Homo sapiens: one gene and its partner. The protein of the gene in region 1 interacts with the protein of each later gene in a pairwise test. Each region holds a gene or a part of one and is shown on either strand. Other genes may lie near its edges.

Region 1 (3,500 bases):
GTACAGATTATACTACTGTAATAATTTCATAGCTGCTTCCTGTTGCTATTCGGCAAGCTCAAGTGTTTTCAGTATCTGCTTAAAATACCATGTGATACTGTCGTCTCCATGTGAGCAGTTCCTCTCTCTGGTAAATTGCATATCACGGTGAAAAGTGGTCTCTTATGGTTCTTGTGTATTTTTCCTTGTGTTTAATGCAATGCTGCAAACCTCGAATAACACCATGGGACCTATACAAAGAGCAACTAATGATGATGGACACGCTGCCAAGAAGCAGAGAAAAGTCATGACCCTACAAGAAAAAGTTGAATTGATTGATATGTACTGTAGATTAAGGTCTGTACCTGTAGTTGCAGGCCATTTCAGACATTCAATTCATCTTGTAAACAGATGATGTAAACTTATGGTATCGATAAAATACCGTACAGTACTGTAAAAGTATTTTCTCTTCCTTATTATTTTCTTAATACCATTTTCTTTTTTTCAGCTTACTTTAGTGTAAGACTATAGTATAGAATACATATAACATACAAAATATGTTAATCAACTATTTATGATATAGGGTAAGGCTTCCAGTCAACAGTAGGCTATTAGTTGTTAAGTTTTTGGGGAGTCAAAACTTAACATGCATGGAGGATCGAAGCCCCTAATCCCTGTGTTATTCAAGGTCAAAGGCCTTTAACCTGTGTCTTGTCTGTTAGACATTCTTAGTCAAATAGTCCAACACCGAGTGAAGAATTTGGATCCCTGCTCTGCCAGTCACTACCTATTGGAGCAAGACACGTCTTCTTTATTGATAAATTTTTATTTATTTCCAATAAGCCTTTTGCATTCCTACTTCATCTTCTCATGTTTACTCAATCTTCTCATTCCTGCAGTGAGGATGACATATAGCTCTCACCTCATCTAAATGGGATAAGTTTAAGCTTTACTGTGATTTGTTTCCAACAATTATGTTATTTATTCTAGGAAGAAGAAATGAAAATGCCTGCAAAGGAGCTCCTAAAACCTGTACCTTACTAGAAAAGTTCCCCGAGACAACAGGATGCAGAAGAGGACAGGTACCAAGAGTGTCGTGCTGGGGAGAATACAATTAATTGTTAGGAATAAGGGCGTGTTGACCTTTACAAAGAAATGGTTGTTTCCTTTGGCCCAATGAATGCCTCTTTTTACATGCCCTTTTTACTGAAACATAATTTTATGTGGTTGACGTCAGAATTGAGGGTGGAAAATGTTCAGTGTTTATAGCTTTGTGGAAAATGTGAGTGCTTATTTTTAGTTCCTTCACAAAGAAATAAGACTTGAATATAAATATTAAATCTTACAAAGGCTCTAATCCAAACTGACAGTAATTTTGTACTGTCACCTTAACTTAGCAGTTCCTCCACACCTTGATAAATGGCTGAATGGAGTGTCATGTTTTCTATGCAGATCAAATATTCCATCATGCACCCCGGGACTCACGTGTGGCCGCACACAGGGCCCACAAACTGCAGGCTCCGAATGCACCTGGGCTTGGTGATTCCCAAGGAAGGCTGCAAGATTCGATGTGCCAACGAGACCAAGTATGGGTCCTCTGTTATCCGTCATATCCGTCACCTCAGAGGATGAGAGTTTGTTACAACACAGTTGTGTTCCTTTGGATTACTTATCTTCTTTTGTAGCTGAAGTAGACTGGAGCAAAGTGATATTAATCCAAACTCTTAAGTCTATATCCCTTCTTGGTGCTTTCTATTAGCCTGGAGACATTGCCCAGCTCTAGGGCTGCCCTCCTCCATTATTTCTCGGCAGAGTACTTATCTAGTTGAGGAGCTGCCTTGTTTCTCTCTCTGGGTAGACAGATGTGCATTCAGAGTCAGCCAACATGCATTGAGCCCTGCAGATGTTATGCATTGTGCTTCCTGCTTTGCAACTTGACTTATTCATGACTACAAGAAGTACCCCTAACTGAAGAACTCACCCCATGATATTTATACGTTTTGATATAGAGGAGATGGTATGGTGCAATGGAAGCTGGCTGCCTTTTTCAAATCCCAGCTCTAACACCTAACCTGTGTAACCTTGGCTAGTTACTTAATCCCTTCAAACATCAGCCTTCTTGCTTATAAAATTGGCAGTGATAACATCTACTTTGCAGGGTTGTTGTATGGATTAACTGGAATAATGCCTATAAGGTGCTCAGTCCATGTTCTGGTATCAGTCGGGACGTGATGAATGTTAGATCTCCTCTCCCTCCCTTGCGTGTTACTTTCCTAATCCTGACATGTTTATTCATGATCTTTTGAACAAACCATACTTGCTCTGGCTTCTGTACCTATGATGCTGATAATCTCTGTCCCTAGAATGCCCGTCTTTTCACCTGTCCAAAATAAACCTATTACTAAGATCCAATTTAGTTTTATAAAAATAGAACCTCTCAGAGTATATATCCTCAGTAATCCCATTCCTATCTTCTATTACTCTTTATTCATTAATATATATTACCCTTATCTCCATAGCAAGCTGTATGTAAGCTCCTGGAGATCAGAAAGCAAGTTATTGTTGTCTTACACATTTCTTATTGTTCTTAGTAGAGGTCTGAGTGGAGGATGAGTGTTCAGGGGTCTGCAGAATTGTCTATTTGATTATTGGCAGATAACTGCCCTGGGCAGCCCATGGTGCTGTGGGAAATTCAGAGATGACTCAGAAGGGGCCGTCCTCTTCTGAGGACACCTAGCAAGGTGTGTCTGCTCAGGAAGATAACACAAGATTGAAGGCCACCGTGGTCATAGAAGAGGTACTACAGATGGCCTCTCTACAGATAAGCTAAAAATACTACAGATGGCTCCATGAGCAGGAGCCTCACCTGCTCACAGACACTCAACTTGCAGAGTGGTGGTTTTTAAAGACAAGAAGGATTCGGACATTGAAAGCTAAAGAGGGGTATTCTGGAACAGTATCCATTAAAGGCACAGAGGCCAAAAATTATGGCCACATATGAAGAATATTGAATAATAATTCAGCAGCCAGCAGTGTATGGTACATAAAGAATAAGGTTGCAAAGTGAAAGAGTCTTTTAGAAACTAAATCATAGGAGGCTTTGAATCCCAAACTAATGGGATCAGACCTTTGTTAGGAAGTTACTGTGGAACCCATGGGTGAATCCTATGGGGACAGTGGGAAGAACAATTAGCAGGCTGTCACAGCAGCCCACCCAAAAGATAAACAGAGCTGGAATTGGGATGCTGGAAAGAAATGGAGACTAGAGAGCAGATGCAAGAGGTGACTCTTGAATGTGTGATACAGGAATGGGGCATCCAAGATGCTGCTGCAATTGCAGTCTTTGGACAGTGGAGGGTGGCGATGCTTGAGCAAACCTTGGGAATTTGGGAGGCATGAGGCAAGTTCAAGGAAAGGAAGATGAATTTAGTGCTTATGTATTTTATTTAGTTGCTATTGGAACACACTTGTAGAACCATCCAGGAGGTGGCTGGAAATAGAGACCTGGCACTCAGGGGAGA
Region 2 (3,500 bases), on another chromosome or scaffold:
CTCAGCCAAATAGTAATAAAATAGAATATAAACTTTTGTTCTGTTACTGGGACCTCTTTCAGCCTAATAACAAAAGTAATAATAATAGAATAAAAACCTTTGCTCCAGGTTCTAGAACCTCTTTCAGCCTAATAATAATAATAATGATAGAATGAAAATTTTTGTTCCAGGTGTCGAGACCTCTTCCAGCCTAATAATAATAATAATGTAATAATATAAGCCTTTGCTACAGGTACCAGGACCTGTTTCAGCCAAATAATAATAACAGCAATGATAATAGAATATAAACCTTGGCCCCAGGCACTGGGACTTCTTTCAGTCAAACAATCACAATAATAATAATAATAATAGAATATGGATGTTTGCTCCAGCTTTCAGGACCTCTTTCAGACAGATAATAATAACCGAGTACAAACTTTTCTTCCAGGTATCGGGACCTCTTCCAGCCTAAAAACAATAGTAATAATAGCATATATATCTTTTTTTTTGTTTTCTTCTTTCTTTGAGACGGAGTTTTGCGCTTGTTGCCCAGGCTACAGTGCAATGGCGCCATCTCGGCTCACTGCAACCTCTGCTTCCCGGGTTCAAACGATTCTCGTGCCTCAGCCTCCCGAGTAGCTGGGACTACAGGCATGTGCCACTACCACGCCCGGCTAATTTTGTATTTTTAGTAGAGGAGGGGTTTCACCATGTTGTCCAGGGTGGTCTCAAACTCCTGACCTCAGATGATCCACCCACCTTGGCCTCCCAAAGTGCTGAGAGTACAGGCGTGAGCCGCTGTGCCTGGTGCCAGCATAAAAATCTTTGCTACAGGTACTGAGACCTTTTTCAGCCTAATAATAATAACAACCGTAACAATAATAATTAGAATATAAACCTTTGTTACTGGTACTGGGACCTCTTCCAGCCTAATCTTCATAATAATAAAAATAATAATAATAATGGAATTGAAACCTTTCCTTCAGGTTCCAGAACCGCTTTCAGCCACATAATAATAATAATAATGATAATAATAATAATAAATAGAATTTAAACTTTTGTTTGAGGACTGGGACCTCTTTCAGCCCAATAGCACAAATAATAATAATGGAATGTAAACCTTTTCCTCCCAATTACCAAAACCTGTTTCAGCCAAATAATAATATGATGATGATGATGATGGAGGATCTGATACAGCTGTGTCCTGTCACTCAGGTCGGACTTAGGAGGCCTCTTGAGATTCTTTTCCCCCTCCGTTGACTGTGTAATCCAGGGGCCCCACCCTAACTCGGCTGCAGAAGATGCAGTTTGGGGGTTCCTCGTTTTGTGGAAGTCCCGGTCATGTTATTCATTCTCTCAGCACCTTAGAACAAACCAGGGTGCTGGCATTGGCCACAGGACCCCCCTCCTTGCACCCCAGTCTTGGGAAGTGGCACTGCTGGGCTCTGGCAATGCCCAGCTCACCTGGCACGTGGCGGCGTCTCCCTAAAAAGCACTGGGCGGGCACCGTTGACGGAAAGCCAGCAACGCAGGCCGCGACTGCCCGTGAAGACGGGGGGCCTTTCTAAGACCTCCACTCATTATTTCGGGCAAAATTAACCTTCAGAATACCTTGCTTTAATAAAGTACCAGAAACCGGAGGGCTTAAAACCATAGCTTATTCTCTCCCAGTTCTGGAGGCCAGAAGTCTGTAATCAAAGTGTCTCAGGGCTGCGCTCCCTCCGGAGGCTTACGCGGAGGGTGCTTCCTGCCTCTCCCAGCTCCTGGGGGCTCCTGGCGTCCCTGGGCTTCAGGCCAGCCACATCATCACTCTAGTCTCTGCCTCTGTCTCCATGTGGCCTTCTCTGTGTCTGTGTCTCCTCTTCTGTCTTTTATAAGGACATCTGTCACTGCATTTAGGGCTCACTCAAATCCCGGATGATCTCATCTCCAGATCCTTAACTCATGAGATCTACAAAATTTCTAATAACCAAGTAAGATCTCATTCCACATCCTGGGCTTTAGGCTGTGGACAGATCTTTCTGCGGGCCACTGTTCAATCCACCATGATTTTATCCAGTTCATTGTGGAGGCTCTAGAGGAGGATCCTTCCTGCCTCTCCCAGCTCCTGGGGGCTCCAGGCGTTCTGGGTTTGTGGCCGCATCACTCCAGTCTCGGCCTCTGTCTCCATGTGGTCTTCTCCTGTGTGTCCGTGTCTCCTCATCTGTCTTCTATTAAGGACACTGGTCACTGCATTTAGGACCACCTCAATTGAGAATAATCTCATCTAAAGATCCTTACCTTCATTATTAATACATCTGCAAAGACCCTTTTTCCAAACAAGGTCCCATACACAAGTACCAGGTGGATACAGATTTTCTTTGGTAGGGGAGGACGCTTTTCAACCCACTATAGTCATCATTGAAATATGCCTCCTTGCACTGACTGTATCCCAACACTCTGAACGTGCCTGGGTGGTGCATTTTGATATTTACCCTCCTGAGCACTGTACTGGACACTTGGAGACACAATTACACCTTTTAACAAAGCCCAGCTGTCATTTTGGGCAACCCAGTCACAGAGGTGGCCTCCTGAGTGGCAGCTGGAAGGGCCTGTATGTGTGAGCATTCAACCTCAACAGGAACCCTGGGGACTGGCTTCTGGGTCATCTAAGCCTCCACACCGACTGCCTGATGTTTGCACAGGTGTGTGATATTTGCCCAGTTGGGCCTTTCTGCCCACAGGTGTGACTGGACACAATGGGCATTTTGAGAAGTTCCAGGGATTGAGAAATCCATGCTTCTTCAGACGTGCTTACAGATCACGGATGCACCTGTGACGTTCCACATGGCTTCATTTTAAACCATAAAGTTTGAGAAGAGTGTGCAGTGCCTCTTAGCCATAGGAAAGCTGGCTTTAGTCAGATGGAGGTCCTGTTTGGCTTCTTTAATGCAGTGAATGAAGCTCAGGTGGCATTCAGAGAGTCCTGCTGTGATGGTTGGCAGTGGGGGGTCTGCCTGGCCACTTGTGGATTCTTCTATGTAGGCTTCATCCCCAGAAAAGATCTACGCAGCTTTCCCACGTGGCAGGTGCTTGGGAAACTCTTAGGACAGGAACAACAAGCCCCTGCGATGACAGAGGCATTGTCAGGCTGGGCGCGGTGACTCACGCCTGTCATCCCAGCACTTTGGGAGGCCAAGGCGGGTGGATCACCTGAAGTCAGGAGTTCGAGACCAGCCTGACCAACATGGTGAAACCCTGTCTCTACTAAAAATACAAAAATTAGCCAGGCGTGATGGCAGGTGCCTGTGATCCCAGCTACTGAGGAAGCTGAGGCAGGAAGATCGCTTGAACCCGGGAGGCGGAGGTTGCAGTGAGCTGAGATCACGCCATTGCACTGCAGCCTGGGTGACAGAGCGAAACTCTGTCTCAAAAAAAAAAAAAAAAAAAAACTAAAGGCACTTGTCAGGTACAGCCCTGCAAAAATGCCGTGCTCACTCGCAAACCTGTATGTTGACACGTGCGGCATCGCTGCAGTCGGA

Evidence for each region.
Region 2: the proteins of ASPH (region 1) and DHRSX interact in binary tests that used the Homo sapiens proteins (3 or more experiments, as listed by UniProt).

Annotation. Positions count from the first base shown.
Region 1 is NC_000008.11:61,515,593-61,519,092, reverse strand, and holds part of ASPH (aspartyl/asparaginyl beta-hydroxylase), read left to right. Parts: intron 1-969; coding exon 970-1,061; intron 1,062-1,431; coding exon 1,432-1,565; intron 1,566-3,500.
Region 2 is NC_000023.11:2,490,977-2,494,476, reverse strand, and holds part of DHRSX (polyprenol dehydrogenase), read left to right. Parts: intron 1-3,500. UniProt on the Homo sapiens protein: Oxidoreductase that plays a key role in early steps of protein N-linked glycosylation by mediating two non-consecutive steps in dolichol biosynthesis.